2 linked regions of the Homo sapiens genome follow. The protein of the gene in region 1 interacts with the protein of each later gene in a biochemical or structural test. Each region holds a gene or a part of one and is shown on either strand. Other genes may lie near its edges.

The links. Proteins that work in one complex are often made in the same cells at the same time.
Region 2: of the proteins of RRAD (region 1) and PRKACA, one has a biochemical effect on the other in vitro, tested with the Homo sapiens proteins (2 studies listed by BioGRID).

What each region holds. Positions count from the first base shown.
Region 1 is NC_000016.10:66,921,642-66,931,630, forward strand, and holds RRAD (GTP-binding protein RAD), read right to left. Parts: upstream 3,895-9,989; 5' UTR 3,768-3,894; intron 3,563-3,767; exon of another isoform or gene 3,554-3,562; 5' UTR 3,539-3,553; coding exon 3,169-3,538; intron 2,279-3,168; coding exon 2,205-2,278; intron 2,080-2,204; coding exon 1,875-2,079; intron 713-1,874; coding exon 435-712; 3' UTR 44-434; downstream 1-43. UniProt on the Homo sapiens protein: May regulate basal voltage-dependent L-type Ca(2+) currents and be required for beta-adrenergic augmentation of Ca(2+) influx in cardiomyocytes, thereby regulating increases in heart rate and contractile force.
Region 2 is NC_000019.10:14,092,755-14,100,762, forward strand, and holds part of PRKACA (cAMP-dependent protein kinase catalytic subunit alpha), read right to left. Parts: intron 5,137-8,008; coding exon 5,010-5,136; intron 4,921-5,009; coding exon 4,825-4,920; intron 4,730-4,824; coding exon 4,607-4,729; intron 1,039-4,606; coding exon 874-1,038; intron 484-873; coding exon 358-483; 3' UTR 1-357.

The DNA of each region.
Region 1 (9,989 bases):
CTGAAGCGCCCAGATAGGAGGAAAGAGAGTCAACAGCCATGACTATCAGGAAATAGCCTTTATTACAAAAATCTGCATGTAAACAAATAGCTACCGCACTGAAGAGCCTCCCTCCAGGGCAGGCACACCCGGGCTGTGAAAAAAGGCAGAGTCCTCTCCCGGCACGCAGGCCTGCCCGGCGGCTGCGCTGCGGCTGCTTGGGACGCATATGAGCCTGCGCATGCATCTCTGTGGGCCCAGCCCTCACTGGCCCCTGAGAGCCACTTCGCAGGGCAGCACTGTCTATCTGTCCATGACCATGAGGTTGGGGGTGCCCGGCTGGCAGCTCCGAGGGACCCAGAGTCTGAGCCTGCTCTGAGGCACCCGGGGCAGTTGGCTGGGCCAGCCCACCAACCCTTCCGTTCGTCTCCCACCATAGTGGGAGCGGGTGGGACCTAGAGAACCGAGAGGTCGTGGCAGGACTTGGATTTGGCGCGAAAGGCCATCTTGCGGCTGTTACGAGCTACGATGCGGCCCAAGAAGCGCTTCGCCTTTTTGCCAAGGCTCTCTCGCCTCCGGGTGCCTGCTTGCCGTCGTGCGTTGGCTTCTTTGCTGTCCCTGCGCAGGCGTATCTGGCGCACGACACCTTCAAACAGCGCCTGGACATTGTGGTGCAATGCCGCTGATGTCTCAATGAACTTGCAGTCAAAGACCACCGCGCAGGCCCGGCCCTCTGTGTGGGTGGGGAAAGGCAGGCACCAGTAAACAAAGGGTGGGTGAATGAGGAGTCCCCTCCAACAGTGGCCACCCATGGAAGCTGCCACTCGAGAATTTGCAAGGTCCTCCCCGAAAACACAGAGACCCCAGCTCCTGTACTGAGGGTACTGGGCACTGCTGCGTCACCCAGTAGGCAGAGTGCCTGCATTTAAGGAGCCCCCAAAACAGTGGCCCTCAAAAGGAGATCCATTTATTGAAATAATTTGAAGCCTGATATTTAAACAAAGTACGACAGTAGTAAACACAGGAAAATGAGAACTATGTTGGACAACTTAGTATTTTATTTTATTTTATTTTATTTTTCTGAGATAGAGTCTCGCTGTCTCCCAGGCTGGAGTGCAGTGGCACAATCTCTGCTCACTGAAAGCTCCGCCTCCCGGGTTCACGCCATTCTCCTGCCTCAGCCTCCCGAGTAGCTGGGACTACAGGCGCCCGCCACCACGCCCGGCTAATTTTTGTATTTTTAGTAGAGATGGGGTTTCACCATGCTAGCCAGGATGGTCTCGATCTCCTGACCTCGTGATCCACCCGCCTCGGCCTCCCAAAGTGCTGGGATTACAGGCGTTAGCCACCCCCTGGCCCATGCCCCGCACAACTTAGTATTTTTTAATTCGAGGTTATATCATGATGAATGATCCAGTGGACTGGGGTTGCGGAGGCAAGGTCACCAAGTCACTGCTGGGTTCCTCTGAGGGGCTCAGTACTGGGGTCCACAGAAAAGGATGCTGAGGCCAAGTGGGAAGGGTCTTCCCCAGGGCCAAGTCTACTCTAAGAATGGCCCAGACCTAGCACACAGGCTCTGACCTCCTGGCCTGTTCCCCTACACTCTCTTCCACCCATTTACCCCCCCAACCAGCCAGGCCAGGACCAAGAGGGGCAGGAGAGGAGGGCCCTGCGGTGCCCAGCTCCCCTATCAGATTTGGTTCTTTCCCCAGCCCTCTGGGGCCTTCCGGAGCCCTGTGAGCAGGCACCAGCTCTCTCCCATTTCCCTCCCCGCCAGTTTTCTTTCTGAACATTTTTAGCCTCTGATGATCCCCAGGGACTCAAGCTGAGCCAAGACTGCCTGGATCAGGGCCCAGCTGGGCTCTCCCTCCCCCTGCAACCTGCCGCCTACTCACCATCCACCGAGACCTCACGAGAGCGCACCAGGTCGCTCTTGTTGCCCACGAGGATGATGGGCACATCATCTGTTTGCCGTGCACGCCGCAGCTGGACCCGCAGTTCTGAGGCCTTCTCGAAGCTGCCCTTGTCCGTCACTGAGTACACAATGACATAGGCATCCCCCATGGCCATGCAGTGGCCGGGCAACCAGCGGCCCCCGTCCTGGAGAACACACAACACACATCTGCCCAACAGTCCTCATGCCCCCGACACGAGCCTGGCACTCCCAGACCTCTAACCCAACTCACTCCTCCCTCCCCTGCCCTGGGTCTCTGCTTGCACCCTACCTGCTCCCAAATGTCGTAGACCATGAGTGATGCCTCTTCTCCGTCCACTACAATGGAGCGATCATAGGTGTGCCCTAGGCAGAAGGCCAGTAGACAGGTTACCAGCTGGTTGTCAAAGCCGCTGCTGCCAGGTTTCCTGTTCTGGCCACACCCTCCAACTCTTCCCCAGAGCCCTCCTTACCCTCCACTCCACTTGCAGATGCTGGTATGTGGCAACAGCAGTGCCAGGCAGGGAAGTGGGGGCTGGAGGGCATGGTGTGCCTGACCTCCACCCACATGCCCCCCCTGGGGACCTTGGCCACCTAGGGCTCCTCTCTTAGAAATCCCTCTGGTTAGAAACTCTGACCTGTCCCTGATAGGCAGGGAGGGATGTCCAGTCCCATCCCACAGAGTAGCCATATCTATGCCCTGGCCTTCTACTCTGGGCATTTCTTCCCTACCAAAGGCTGGGGGGTGTCCCTTCTCCTTTCCTTTCCCCATTTATGAAGTGGGTAGGTAGAGGCATGATTCTGAAAGCGCCAATAGAATTCCACAGTATTGGCCAGGTGCGGTGGCTCACGCCTGTAATCCCAGCACTTTGGGAAGCCAAGGTGGGCGGATCACGAGGTCAGAAATTCCAGACCAGCCTGGCCAACATGGTGAAACCCCAACTCTACTAAAAACACAAATATTAGCCGGGCGTGGTAGCAGGCGCCTGTAATCCTAGCTACTCTGGAGGCTGAGGCAGGAGAATCCCTTGAAACCTGAAGGCGGAGGTTGCAGTGAGCCTAGATCGAGGCCACTGCACTCCAGCCTGGGAAAAAGAGCGAAACTCTGTCTCAAAATAATAATAAAATAATAATAATAATAATAATAACAACAACAACAACTATAATTCCACGGTATTTGCGGCTTTGAGTACCGGTCTCAGCCCCTAGTCCTAGCCCCGGGATCGCCCCTCCCCTGAACAGCTGGGTCCCCTCACCTGCTGCCTCTGCTTCAGGCCCGTCCTCCACACCGCCGAAGATGCGCGCCAGGGCGCTCTTGCCCACGCCGGGCGCCCCCAGCAGCAGCACCTTGTAAACGCTCTCGTCTGAGTCGCTGCCCCCTGAGCTGAGCGAGTCCTCGGAGTCCTCGGGCCAGTCCAGCCTGGGACCCTGGGTCCCCGTCCCGGCCGCGGCCGCCGTCAGGGCACCCGGGGTCAGCGCCGCCTGCAGGTCGCGCTCGTCCACCGGCATGCTGCGGCGGTGCAGCGGCGGGGCGGGGCCCCAGGGTGTGCTGCCCCGACGGCGCTCGCGCTCCTGGCCCCCACCGCGGCTCCCGCCCGCTCCGCTGCCGCCGCCGTTCAGGGTCATCGCGTCCGGGACCGTCTAGGGGATCAGGAACCCGAGTGGCCGTGTAAGCCGCGAGGGAGGCGGGACCCGGGGCGCACCTGCCCAACCCGGAGTCAGGCGGGATGCTCCGGCCGAGGTCCCGCCGCAGCCCTCCCCCAGCCCCCAGGTCGCGGCGCCCTCACCCGGGACCCCTCCGGACCTGGCGCATCCATCTGCAGCCGCCCCGACCCCGCTCCGCCAGGACACTCACCCACTCGCACACAGACACGCTCAGGACTAGGATCCGGATTAGGAGGCCACGCACTCGTAGTCCGGACTCGGACTTTAGGGTTTCCGCCGCCGCTGCTGCTGCAGCCACCGCCTTCTCAGCCCGCACTGGGCTCTGGCTCCAGAGCCGCCTATTTAAGCCTCCACCCGCCCCCGCTCCCGCCCCCGGTCCACGCTGCTGCGGGGGCTGACGTGTCTGTCCACCCCCACCAGGGGAATCCCCCACCCTCTTCCTCGGACCTTACATCCCCGACACCCCGCCCTACCCGCCAGGGGAGTAGCGGTAGCTGTCTGGGAATAGAGGGGCTGACCGGTAGGCGAGGTCCGGAGCTGAGGGTGTGTGTGAGAAGGAGAGAGAGAGCGAGGTTGCGGGGGGAGTACGTGATGGGGAGGCAGGCAGCGGGGTAAACCCAATCAGCCAAAAGCAGCAACTGCCCTCTGGAGAAGAATTCGGTCTGGCCCCGTGAGACTGAATTCTCCCTTTCCTCTCCCCAAGTCCCGGCTCGTCCTTTTAGCAAGTAAGCTAGTTACAGGCTGGACAGAGATCCCCCTTCTCTGCCCATGACACCCACTCCCCATAGGCTCAGGTCTGAGCTAGAATTTAGGGGGTGTCCTAAATTCACACAAAATCCTTTCCACTCCCCATCCTGGAGTTGAAGATTCTCCCTAATGAGCCTAACCTTCAGTGTGAGGGTTGGTGTCACCCCATGAGCCCCTGGGGGCCCTGAGAGGGCTGTTGGGGGTGGGGGCAGCTCTGACAGAGTTGCAGGTGGAGATGCCTGCTTGAACCCTGGGGAGGATACCCCAGCCCAGAAGAGGGAAGGGATTAAACTCAGTCCCCATCCCACCTCCCAGCACCCACCAGGCAGCTGCCAGCAACTCTGCTAAAAATAAATAATCTGCCCCAGCCCTGGCCCTGGCCGTGGCTCTGGTTATTCTGCTCCTGGACTGGAAGTTGCCCAGAGTTGGGGAAATCCAGGCCAATGGGTGTTGAATGCCAGCAGGAGCCAGCCACTTCGAGTCGTCAAGGTCTCCCTTCTTCCCTCTAGCTGTAGGCTGAGCCAGCCACCCAGGGCACATCCAGGGCCTGGAGGTTCAGGCCCCCACCCAAAAGGGGCATAAACACAGGGTGTGGTCAAGGCATGAGGAGTGTCTTAGCTCCCTGCTCATCTCTCAGGGGTCTGAGGGTTGCAGGTCAGGCTGTGAGGTATTTTGTGACAGGGACCTGCTATCAGACTGTGACATCTGATTGTGACAAGTGTGGTGGGGGTGGGAGGGCATCCATTTGGGGCTCAGGTGACATCACAGATGGATGGACCCTGGTGGGCTGTGGTAGGTTGTCATGGAGACCTGGGCCAGGCTCTTTGGCTGCTGCATCAGTTTCCTTGGCAACGCCTAAGAAGGCCTTGGATTGAGGAGGGCCTGGCTCGGTAAGATTAGGGCCCTCTTGTCCTTGAGGTCTTCAAAGTAGGCAAAAGCTGGGCTGAGGGGTGGCCTGCCCATGGTCCTAGGGGATCTTGGAGGCCTGAGCATCCCCATGCTGGTTCTGGCTTCCTGAACGAACTCCAGTGGGAAGAGGAAGTTATGGGCAGAGCCTCCCGTTAGCAGGCAAGTCTAAAGAGCCACCACACACTTCCCATGAGGAATCCTGGCTGGGCTGCCTGTGCCCCCTCCAACCCCATGACTGTGCCACTGGAAAGAGCCTCCTCTGGGTGTCTGGCAGAGGGCGAGGGTGGGGGGTAGCTGTGGCCCTTCCCAGCAGGGGGCCATGCAAAGAAGGAGGGCTGGGTTTCCCCTCTGGCAATCTGAGCTCTTGACCTCAGCAGTGTTTCTTCATTGCCAAGGGAACTGCAACCACAAAGGGCCACTCAAGCCCCAGGCATTCCAGTGGCTGCTCCAACAGGCCAGAGACACTCACCACAAGCTAGATATGGCCAGGGGCCCCAGGGATTAACACCAGGACACAACCTTGAGACACCCCCACTCCCACCACCTGGTTCTCCCAGCTCTCTGGGCTGAGCATGGCTGCCCAGGAGGAATAAACTGAGGCTAGAACCACTCCTAGGTCCGCCCGGGCTTCAGATCCCAGCTGTGCTCCTTGCTAGCTGTTTCACCTGTGTCCATTTATCTAGGCTGAGCCTCAGTTTCTCCAGTGTAGAACAGGGATCACCTCTTCCTGATGGTTATTATAAGACAAAACAAACATGAAATGCAGAGGCACAGTAGTTGGCTCAAGTCGGGCACACAGTAATATCTCACTAAGAGCACGTTTATCATGATCATCCTTCGTTGGATGGGGCAGGTTAGGTGAATTTGTGGTCCCTCTCCTGTTTCTGCTCCACTCTCTCCAGGATGGTGGTCTGTCCAGGAGTGGGGCAGAGGTCTCAGGAACAATGCAGATACCTCTCCCCTAGCCCCATACCCATGTCTCCTCTCTGTAGGACCCCACACTCTTCCCCGTCCCTCAGGTGACAAGATGCTGCAGAGGGAACTGGGCTGGGCTTCAGTGTCCCCACCCCCTCCTCACACCACAGCCTTCAGGCCCCAGAGCCTCTGCTGTGTTCTAAGGCCCAATGCATTCATTCATTCCGCGGTCCTGTACTAAATACCTACTGTGTGCCAGGCCCTTGTGCTGGGGGCAGGATGATGAGCAAAAATAGACATGGCCGGGCATGTTCATACATGTCATCTAATCCCTGGGTCAAACTCAGCTATGATTTGTTGTTCCCATTTTGTAGACATGGTAACCAAAGCCTGAGGAGTCACAGGCCAGAAACAGCAGAGCCAGACATACCTGGTGGAGGGTTTCAGGAACCTCAAACTTCACCATCCCCTGTACCCTTGTGTCCTCAGATAGCATCTGGGGTTCCAGAAAGTTCCCTGGGCACTGGCCCAGGATGCACAGATGGTGGCCCTGCAGGCAGCCAGGGGCCAGGCACTGATGAGTCAAGAGTGACAAGAGAACTATCTGATATGTCAGCTGTGGCATGAGCAGTTTGGTGTCCCTCACCCACCATGGCCTGGCTGCCAGGAAGGCCAGCCAAATGACTCAATCACACCTGCCGCCCCCATGACTCCCTTCATCCCCAGCTCAACACAGACACCATGGCCACCTCAGACAGGGACTGTCCGGCAGAAGGTACACACGTCGTAGGGTGTGAGGCCTTCAGCTCGGGAAGGCTCCCTGGGGCTCAGCTGTTCACTCTGCCTCTCTGGAGCCCTCAGCTTCCTCATCTGTGCGGGATACAGTGCCTAGATCATCAGAGCTAGGCCTAGACCCATTTAAATCTCCCAAGGGCAGTCCCAAGTGGTTGCCATGACTATCCCCCTCACAGATGAAGAAGCTCTGGGCAATAGGGGCTGATGGCTTCACCTCTCTGATCTTAGGTAGCCAGATCCAGCACCTCCTCTTGGTCATTAGGTGGCGAGGCCACTCCCTCCTAAGAGTGAGCTGAGTGGGAGCAATAGGAGTTGGGGTTCAGGATGGGCTTAGCCCCTTCTGTAGGCAACGGCGCCCCCTGCCAGCTGCACAGCACCTATCAAGCTGCTCAGGGCCTCCTTTACTCCCTAGCTGTAAGTTTTTTTTTTTTTTTGAGACAGGGTGTTGCTCTGTCACCCAGGACGGAGTGCAGTGGCACAATCATAGCTCACTGCAGCCTCAACCTCCTGGGCTCAAGCGATCCTCCCACCTCCGCCTCCCGAGTAGCTGGAACCACAGGCATGCACCACCATTCCCCACTAAATACACACACACATTTTATTTTAGAGACAGGGTCTTGCTATGTTGCCCAGGCTTGCCTCAAAATGCTGGGCTCAGGCGATCCTCACATCAGCCTCCCAAAATGCTGGGATTACAAGTGTGAGCCACCGTGCCCGGCTAGATGTCTTGAGAAGTAAATTAGAGTTGTCCCTTGGTATCCACAGGGGATTGGCTCCAGGATCCCCATGAATCCCAAAATCCATGAATACTTAACTCCTTTACATATATTTTTTTACTTTGTTTTTTAAACTCAACTTCAGTGGCTGAGATCAAGTCTCTTATATAAAATGGCACAGTATCTGCATTTAACCTCTGCACATTCTTCCATATATTTTAAGTCATCTCCGGATTACTACTGTAATACCTAATACAATGTAAATGCTATGTAAGTTGTTGTTAGACTGCATTGTTTAGGGAATAACAACAAGAAAAAAAGTTTGTACATGTCCAGTACAGACACAGTCATCCTAGGCCTAACTACATTTTCGATCCACAGCGGGTTGTACCCATGGATGTAGAACGCATGGATAATGGAGGTCTGACTACATTTATTCTAGAAGCCCATTTCCTGTCCGAAAATTGGGGATAAAGAATAGCAAGCGAGGTGTGATGGCACATGCCTGCAGTCCCAAGAATTCAGGAGGCTGAGGCAAGAGAATCCCTGGAACCCAGGCATTCAAGGCTGTAGTGTGCTATAATCATACCTACGGATAGCCACAGTACTCCAGCCTGGGCAACATAGCGAGATTCTGTGTCTCAAAAAAAAAAAAAAAAAAGAGAGAGAGAGGATAGCAATTGCTGCATAGGGCTGGATGGAGAACTGACTAGATAGTAAGTGTAAAGCCCTCGACTGAATTCCACTCTTAGGATAGGCTCAATGCTGTCAGCAGGCCCTCAAGAACAGATCTGCAAAATGGCCAGGATCCCTACTGAGGCTTCTCTGCCCACAATCATATCTGGGCCTCAGTAGGGATGAGGTGGGGTTGGGCACTGCTTCTTAATATTGCCATTTATCTTCAGAGAATGAGACTAAAGCAGGAAGGATGCTCCCCCTGGGAAAGTGATCCTAACCAGCTAAGCCAAGGTCTAAGCCCTACAGTCTGTCCAGGTGACCAAATGCAATCTGGGCATAGGGCCAAGGGGAGGCAGAGGCCTTAGACCCGAGCACGTCACTTCACAGTGCTGAGCTTCCCTCTTACTCAACACTGGGGGTGACACATGCCTTTGGGAGGGCTGATTGAGAGGGTGCCTCAGGTTCCCTTCAACAGAGAAGTCTGATGTCACTGCCCTTATCAGGGACCAGACGGCCATCACTAACAGCTGGAAAAGCTGGCATCACACACCTACTAGTGGGCTTATAAAATATATATGCCACTCCTGGGCAGGGTTTTCATCAAAAAGCGCAAACCTGGACTCACTGAGGCCTTTAGACCAATTTCCAGTTAAAGGCAACACAAATCAGGAACAAATCAGACTGCAGAACTGGGACTTCTCTGAACTTTTCCAAACAATCACTGTGAAAAAAGACAAAGGGCTGGGCGTGGTGTTCACACCTGTAATCCCAGCAGGTTGTGGGGCTTGAGCCTGGGAGTTTAAGACCAGCTTAGGCAACATAGGGAGACCCAGTCTCTACAAAAAATTAAAAAATTAGCCTGGCATGGTAGCACACGCCTGTAGTCCCAGCTACTCGGGAGACTGAGGCAAGAGGATCACTTGGGCTTAGGAGGTTGAGGCTACAGTGAGCTCTGATCACATCACTGCACTCCAGCCTGGGTGACAGAGCAATACACTACCTCTTAACAAAATGTTTTTTTGAATTAAAAAAACTGAAAAACAGCTAGGTGTGATACTCAAGCCTGTAATCCCAGTGCTTTGGCGGACCAGGTGAGAGAACTGCTTGAGGACAAGAATTTGAGACCAGGCTGGGCAACACGGCAAGGCCTCATCTCTACCCCCAAAAATAAAAAATAAAAATAAATAAATAAATAAATAAATAAATATTCTTTTGATTGGGCTGGTTGGGGTGGCTCATACCTGTAATCCCAACATTTTGGGAGGATGAGGCAGGAAGATCACTTAAGCCCAGGAGCTAGAGTCCGGCCTGGGCAACCTAGGAGACCCTGTCTCTACAAGAAAATTAAAAATTAGCCAGGCACGGTGGTGCATGCCTGTAGTCCCAACTATTCGGGAGGCTGAAGTGGGAGGATCGCTTGAGCCCAGGAGGTCAAGGCTGCAGAAAGGTATAATTGTGCCACTGTATTCCAGCCTGGGCAACAGAGCAAGACTGTGTCCCCTCAAAGAAAAAAAAATTTGGCCAGGAATGGTGGTGTATGCCTGTAATCCAAGCTACTTGGGAGGCCAAGGCTGGAGGATTGCTTGAACCCAGGAGTTGGAGGCTGCAGTGAGCTACAATCTTGCCACTGCACCTGGGCCTGGGCAACAGGG
Region 2 (8,008 bases), on another chromosome or scaffold:
CCATACCCTGTCCCTGGATACACCAGCAAGACCTGGTCTGACTGGAGTTGAGAAACTCGTTTAAAACAGGCAGAAGTGGGCTGGGAGGGCTGAGGGGCTGGGGGGCTGTGGGGAAAGAGGAAGGGAAAAGTGGGAGAGGGGGCAGGAGGGTGAAGGGGATGAGGGGGAGCAGCTGGTGTTTCTGTCCCTCTGATTATCTGGGCTTCCTGCTCCCCCTAACCCTGGAGGGTGGGGTGGGGGTGAAATTAGATGCAAGGAACTCTGGGGCCCTCTGGCTGTTCAATCCAACCCTCCCACCCCCCCGACCAAAAAAAAGAAAAAAGAAAAAAGAAAACCCATGGGGGCACAGGCATGCCCCTAAAACTCAGAAAACTCCTTGCCACACTTCTCATTGATGGAGACCCGGATTTCTTCTTCCTCATAGTCGTCAAAGTTACTCGTATCCCCAGGGCCTTTAAACTTTGGTATGAAGGGAGCTTCCACCTGGAGAGGGATCAAGAATCACCCAGACCTCAGCATTCAACATAATCATTATTACAACAATAAATGCGAATGGCCTAACATTCAAGAGATATTTACTCTGACTCAGGCCTGTGCTTACCATTAGGTTATGGATTCCTCTTAACAGCCCGAAACTCTTAATGTAGCAACTCATCAAAGGGGAAATTACTTCCCAGAGAGAGGCATCTGTTGCACAAGGTCATGGAATGGCCAAATGACCCCAGAATCCCATTTCTAGACCCCACTGCTCTAAGCTCTCTACTCTAGGTTGCTCCTGAACCTGTGTTCTCTTCTCTATTTCTCTATTGGCTGTCCTCCCTGACTCTTGGCCTGCTCCCAAACCCTCAGCAGGCTTAAGGAGGGGAGGCCCACCTTCCTCTGGTAGATGGCAATCCAGTCAGTTGTGGCAAACCACTTGTGGTTCTTGATATCGTTGACCCCATTCTTGAGGTTCCCAAAGCGCTTGGTGAGATCTACCTGCAGGAGGTTCCGCAGCAGGTCCTTCAAGTCAGAGCTGAAGTGGGAAGGGAAGCGCACCTGGAGGAAGGGGTACAAGGACAGGGTGGGAAGCTGGTCTGGAACTTGGGAAGCCCATGATGCTTCTTTCTCCATCCAACGGTCCTACTGGGTGTGGGCCTCCAAAGCAGAGTGCCTGCCAGCATCTTGTAAAACAGCTCCTTGAGCCTACCCTACAGTTTCCAATTTAGGAAGTCTGATACTGTGGCCTGAGAATCTGCATTTCTTTAAAAACTTTAAAAATTCAAGAGTTAGTTATTTTAAGAAGTTTTTGTAGAGACAGGGTCTCACTACGTTGCCCAGGCTGGTCTTGAACTTCTAGGCTCAAGCGATCCTCCTGCTTTGGCCTCCCAAAGTGCTAGGATTATAGGCGTGAGCCACCACACCCAGCAAGAATCTGCATTTCTTTTTTTGAAAAAAAAAAAAAAAAAAAAAAAAAAATAGCCTCACTCTGTAGCCCAGGCTGGAGTGCAGTGGTGCGATCTGGGCTCACTGCAACCTCCGCCTCCTGGGTTCAAGGAATTCTCCTGTCTCAGCCTCCTGAGTAGCTGGGATTACAGGCTCACGCCAAGACACCTGGCTAATTTTTGTATTTTTAGTAGAGACGGGGTTTCACCATATTGGTCAGGCTGGTCTTGAACTCTTGACCTTAGGTGATCCACCTGCCTTGGCCTCCCAAAGTGTTGGGATTACAGGTGTGAGCCACCGTGCCTGGCCCAAGAATCTGCATTTCTAACAAATTCCCCAGCAATGGTGCTGCTGGAAAGGGGTCCCTTTTAAGAACCATTGCTCTAAGGCAAGTGCTATGATGATTTCCATTTCAGAGAAGGGGAAACTGAGGCTTGGGTTAAACAGCTCTTCCTAGGTCACATTGAGGTGTGTGATGGGGCAATTCCATCTCAGGTCTACTGGACTCTAGAACTTGCATTCTCAGCTGCTGCTGCTGCTGCTTAAGGCATCTCTGCTGGGGTCTGGAGACTTCTGAAATATTCTTGCTTATGACAAACTTTTTCTCTCCTCTCTTTCTGCATAGCTAAGGCTCTTCCGTTCTTTAAAGCCCAGCTCAACTCTTCTTGAAAGTTTTCCCCAAACCCTCTGAGCCCACGCCTTGTATGCAAGTCATCACTGGAGTTATAGTTGCAAGAAACGACTTCTTGTTCCTGCTGTGCCTCTTACACGCTGTGTGACCTTGGCCATGGCCCTTAACCTCTCTGGGCCTGCGCATGCCTCTCAGATGTGGGGCAGATATGCCAGGGCTGCACGAGGGAGATAATACCACTGACGGTGCGGGGGAACTAGAAAATGCTACAAAGAAGGGAGTCATGTGCATCTTCTCCTGTGGGATCTTCTGTGTTTTTTTCTTTCTTTTTTTTCCCACTCTGGGACATTTTTTTTTCTTTTTTTCTTTTTTTTTTTTGAGATGGAGTCTTGCTCTGTTGCCCAGGCTGGAGTGCAGTGGCACAATCTCAGCTCACTGCAACCTCTGCCTCCCGGTTTCAAGTGATTCTCCTGCCTCAGACTCCTGAGTAGCTGGGATTACAGGTGTGTGCCACCATATCCGGCTAATTTTTGTATTTTTAGTAGAGACGGGGTTTCACCATGTTGGTCAGGCTGGTCTTAAACTCCTGACCTCGTGATCCGCCCGCCTCGGCCTCCCAAAGTGCTGGGATTACAGGCGTGAGCCACCACACCCGGCCAACTCTGGGCCATTTTCTTGGCAGTTTCTTTTGGTCCGGTGGCAGATGCCTCATCTTTCCCTTTTTTTGAGACAGAGTCTTGCTCTGTCACCCAGGCTGAAGTGCAGTGGCGCAATCTCGGCTCACTACAACCTCTGTCTCCCGGGTTCAAGCAGTTCTCTGCCTCAGCCTCCCGAGTAGCTGGGATTACAGGCACCCGCCACCACGCCCAGCTAATTTTTGTATTTTTAGTAGAGACAGGGTTTCACCATGTTAGCCAGGCTGGTCTTGAACTCCTGACCTCGTGATCCACCTGCCTTGGCCTCCCAAAATGCTGGGATTATAGGTGTGAGCCACCGCGCCTGGCCTTCATCTTTCTCTTTTAGTGATGCTATGTGTCCAGCTGGGGCACCCCACTTGCCTGAATTTTTTTAAAAGACAGGGTCTGGCTCTGTGACCCAGGCTAGACTGCAGTGATGCAATCACAGCTCACAGCTCACTTCTGGGCTCAAGCGATCCTCCTGCCTCACCCTCCCGATGAGCTGGGAACACAGGGGTGCACCATCACGCCCAGCTAATTTTTAGTTTTTTTTTTTTTTTTTTTTTTTTGAGACAGAGTCCTGCCCTGTTGCCCAGGCTGGAGTACAATGGTGTGATCTTGGCTCACTGCAACCTCCGCCTCCTGGGTTCAAGTGATTCTCCTGCCTCAGCCTCCCAAGTAGCTGGGATTACAGGCGCCCACCACTATACCCAGCTAATTTTTTTTGTGTGTGTTTTTAGTAGAGACGGAGTTTCACCATGTTAGTCAGGCTGGTCTCGAACTCCCGACCTCAGGTGATCTGCCCGCCTTGGCTTCCCACAGTGCTGGGATTACAGGTGTAAGCCACCGCGCCCGGCCAGTTTGTTTTTTTTTTTTTTTTTTTAGAGATGGGGTCTGGCTATGTTGCCCAGGCTGGTCTGGAACTCCTGGCCTCAAGCCTCCACTTCCCAAGGTGCTGGCATTACAGGTGTGAGCCATTGTACCCAGCCCCAAAGTTTCAAAGCCAGTCGGTGGCAGAGCTGGGACTGGGGCCCAGGCTGAGCCTGAGGGTGCTCCCACCACAGTGTCATGACTCCGGGCCAACCAAAAGCTCCTGTGTAGGAGATGCTGGACCAAGTCGGGGGATGGTCGGGTCTTCCCAGCAAGGTGGTTGAGCTGAGGGCAGAGGTGGGGTCCCCAACCTCTCTCCGGCCATCAGTGCCTACAATGATTGCCTACGGTGATTACCTACTCACCAAAGTGTGATCTTGGCCAAGACACATCCCTTTTCCCAGCCTGTTTCCTCACCTCTCCTACAGAGGGTGCCACTATCTCAGGGTGTGACTGATGGGGATTCTGGGGCCTGGTGGATGGTGGGCACTTTGCACCTGTCATAGATGTGAGCTGAGATGGCTTCACCACCCCTCATCTGAACCCTCAGAGTTAGGCAAGTCTGGGTTTGGGAGAGGAAGCATGGGCTATAAATGCTAAGTGAGGGCAATCCTGGGTGAGGCTATGGACAGCACCTGGGAACAGGAACCAAATACATTCGTTTTTCTGCCTTGGAATTTGCGAAAACTCACACTAACTGGGATGAGGAGCGAAAAGGAGGGTCGTCTGGCAGGGCGGTTTGTGTTCTGTGGCCAAGATGTTCCCGTGAGGCTCGGGATTTTGGAAGCCCATGGGATTCTGGAACCGCGGGGTTGGGGCTGGACAGCAAGGGGGCTTGAGGTGTTGGCCTCAGTGTGGCCGGCGCGTCCAGCTTCACCACCTGGCCTGACTTAAGGAACTTCTAGATTATTCTGACAACAAGCAGGGCTCCCCAGGGAATAGGATGGGTGAGCAGGGAACGGTCTGTTTCTTCCAGGGCTGTGTCCCCACATCCGGACCTCACCTTCCCAGAGACGATCTTCTCATAGATCTGGATGGGCTGGTCTGCGAAGAAGGGCGGGTAGCCAGCGGCCATTTCATAGATAAGAACCCCCAGGGCCCACCAGTCCACGGCCTTGTTGTAGCCCTGGAGCAAGATGGGGGGGCACAGGGTGAGGAGGAGGCGAGAGCAGGAGAGCAGAGCCGGCCTCAGGGGAAGGGGAGGGCTGGGGAGGCTCCTACTTTGCTCAGGATAATCTCAGGGGCCAGGTACTCAGGGGTGCCGCACAAGGTCCAAGTGCGGCCCTTCACGCGCTTGGCGAAACCGAAGTCTGTCACCTGTGGGCACAAGAACAGGCAGTTGGCAGGGAGGAAGGGTCCAGGCCACGGCTTCCCCAGGGCTGCCCCTCGCCCGGCCTGGTGGGCACCTGAATGTAGCCCTGCTGGTCAATGAGCAGATTCTCCGGCTTCAGGTCCCTGTAGATGAGATCCAGCGAGTGCAGATACTCAAAGGTCAGGACGATCTGGGCCGCGTAGAAACGGGCATGGGGCTCACTGATGGGGACAAATGGGGAGGTGAACGTCAGTGGTCATGCCCCAAAATGGTCCAGCAGGTGGCCCTGCAGAGCCTACCCCAGAGGAAGACACCTCCAGTCCAGCCGTCAGAAACGCAAGGCACCTGATTCTTAGATAGCCCGACATGGGAAACAGCCTGTGGGTCCATCCACAGGAAAATGGAATCACAGACTGAGCTATAGTCATACAATGGAATTCCACTCACCACCACCACCGCCAACAGGACAGCCCATGCATCCACTCAACAATGTGGCTGCATTTCAAACTGATTATGTTAAGCAAAAGAAGACACAAAAGAACATGAATGATTCCATTTATATCATGTCCACGCCCAGACAAAACAAAGGCACGGTGTTTGAAGTCAGAAAGGACAACTGCCTTTGGTGGGGAGGTGACGTGTCAAGAGAGGGATTCGGCCCGGTGCGGTGGCTCACCCCTGTAATCCCAGCATTTTGGGGGGTCGAGGTGGGAAGATCGCTTGAGCCCAGGAGTTCGAGACCAGCCTGGGCAATATAGGCAAGACCTCACCTCTGTATGTATGTAGATATGTGTGTGTGTGTGTATATATATATATATATTTTTTTTTGATTAATTTATTTTTTTTAAGACAGTCTCGCTCTCTTGCCCAGGCTGGAGTGCAATGGCATAATCTCGGCTCACTGCAACCTTTGCCTCCTGGAAACAAGTGATTCTCTTGCCTCAGCCTCCTGAGTAGCTGGGATTACAGGTGTGCACCACCACGCCCGGCTAATTTTTATATTTTTAGTAGAGACGGGGTTTCACCATGTTGGTCAGGCTGGTCTCGAACTCCTGACCTTGTGATTCGCCCGCCTCGGCCTCCCAAAGTGCTGGGATTACAGGCGTGAGCCATGGCACCCGGCCTCCACCTCTGTATGTTATTGGAAAAAAAAAAAAAAAAAAAAGGGATTCAAGGGAATTTTCTTAGGTGATAGAAAAGTTCCATATACTGTTTTGGGTGGAGGTTAGGTAGCTATATACAACTGTCAAAACTTGTAGCATGGAACATTGAAGAACTGTGCATTTTGTTGTATGTAAAGTGAATCTATAGTTATCTATCTAAAATACAACTACAAGGCCAGCGCGGTGGCCCATGCCTGTAATCCCAGCATCTTGAGAGGCCAAGGCGGGGGGGGCGGATCACCTGAGGTCAGGAGTTCGAGACCAGCCTGGCCAACATGGTGAAACCCCATCTCTACTAAAAATACAAAAATTAGCCAGGCAAGGGGGCATGCACCTGTAGTCCCAGCTACTTGGGAGGCTGAGACAAGAGAATCACTTGAACCCGGGAGGCAGAGTTTGCATGGAGCCGAGATCGTGCCACTGCACTCCAGCCTGGGTGACAAGAGTGAAACTCTGTCTCAAAAAATAAAATCAAATAAAACTACGTATGTAAACTTATAAGTTAATAAGACAAATTTATAAGTTAAAAATTTTTTTTTTCTTTCAGCAGGGTCTGACTGGGTTACAACCCAGTCTGGACTGCAGCAGCGTGATCACGGCTTATGCAGTCTTTTTTTTTTTTTGCATATGTTGAACCAGCCTTGCATCCTAGGGATGAAGGTGGGCTCATGCAGTCTTGACCTCCCAGACTCAGGTGATCTTCCCACCTCAGCCTCCCCAGGAGCTGGGACTACAGGAATGTGCCACCACACCTGACTTTTTTTTTTTTTTTTTGTATTTTTTTGTAGAGATGGGGTCTTGCTATGTAAGGCTGGTCTCAAATTCCTGGGCTCTAGCAATCTGCCCACCTTGGCCTCCCCAAGTGGGATTATAGGGCATGAGCCACAGTACCCAGCCTGTATCTTAAACTTACAAATTTCTGTATATAGATTTATTTTATGTATAAAAATATATATTAAAATCTACACATATAAAACTGTCCACCTATATAAAATAAAATAATAGTATAATTTTTATTTTATTTTTTTGAGACGGAGTCTCGCTCTGTCACCCAGGCTGGAAGTGCAGTGGCGCGATCTCGGCTCACTGCAAACTCCGCCTCCCGGGTTCACGCCATTCTGCCTCAGCCTCCCGAGTAGCTGGGACTATAGGCGCCCGCCATCACACCCGGCTAATTTTTTTGTATTTTTTTAGTAGAGACGGGGTTTCACCATGTTAACCAGGATGGTCTTGATCTCCTGACCTCGTGATCCGCCCGCCTCGGCCTCCCAAAGTTCTAGGATTACAGGCACGAGCCACTGCGCCCAGCCAATTTTTTTTTTTTAAAAGAGACAAAACCTCACTATGCAGCCCAGGCTGGTCTCAAATTCTTGAGCTCAAATGATCTTCTCACCTCAGCCTCAGGACTAGTGGGACTACAGATGCATGCCACCTTTTGGGGCTCAAAAAATGCACAAAATCAACAACTTCAATTTTTTTTTTTGAGACGGCATGTCACTCTCTCACCCAGGCTGGAGTACAGTGGTGTGATCTTGGCTCACTGCAACCTCTGTCTCCTGGGTTCAAGTGATTCTCCTGCCTCAGCCTCCCAAGTAGCTGGGATTACAGGTGCCCACCACCATGCCCAGCTCAGTTTTGTATTTTTAGTGGAGACAGGGTTTTGCCATGTTGGCCAGGCTGGTCTCAAACTCCTGACCTCAGGTGATCTGCCCACCTTGGCCTCCCAAAGTGCTGGGATTACTGGTGAGAACCACCGTGCCTGGCAGCAACTTCAGTTTGGACACCTAAGTTGCCCTGTTTGCTCTGTTTTGTTTTGTGGTGGTTGAAATATCACATATTCCTCAGCAGAGGGGAAACAGAAACCCACAGGGTCTGGGAGACCACCTGCATGTTGAAGTATGCTGGACTCCTCTGCATTCCCAGGGGGCTT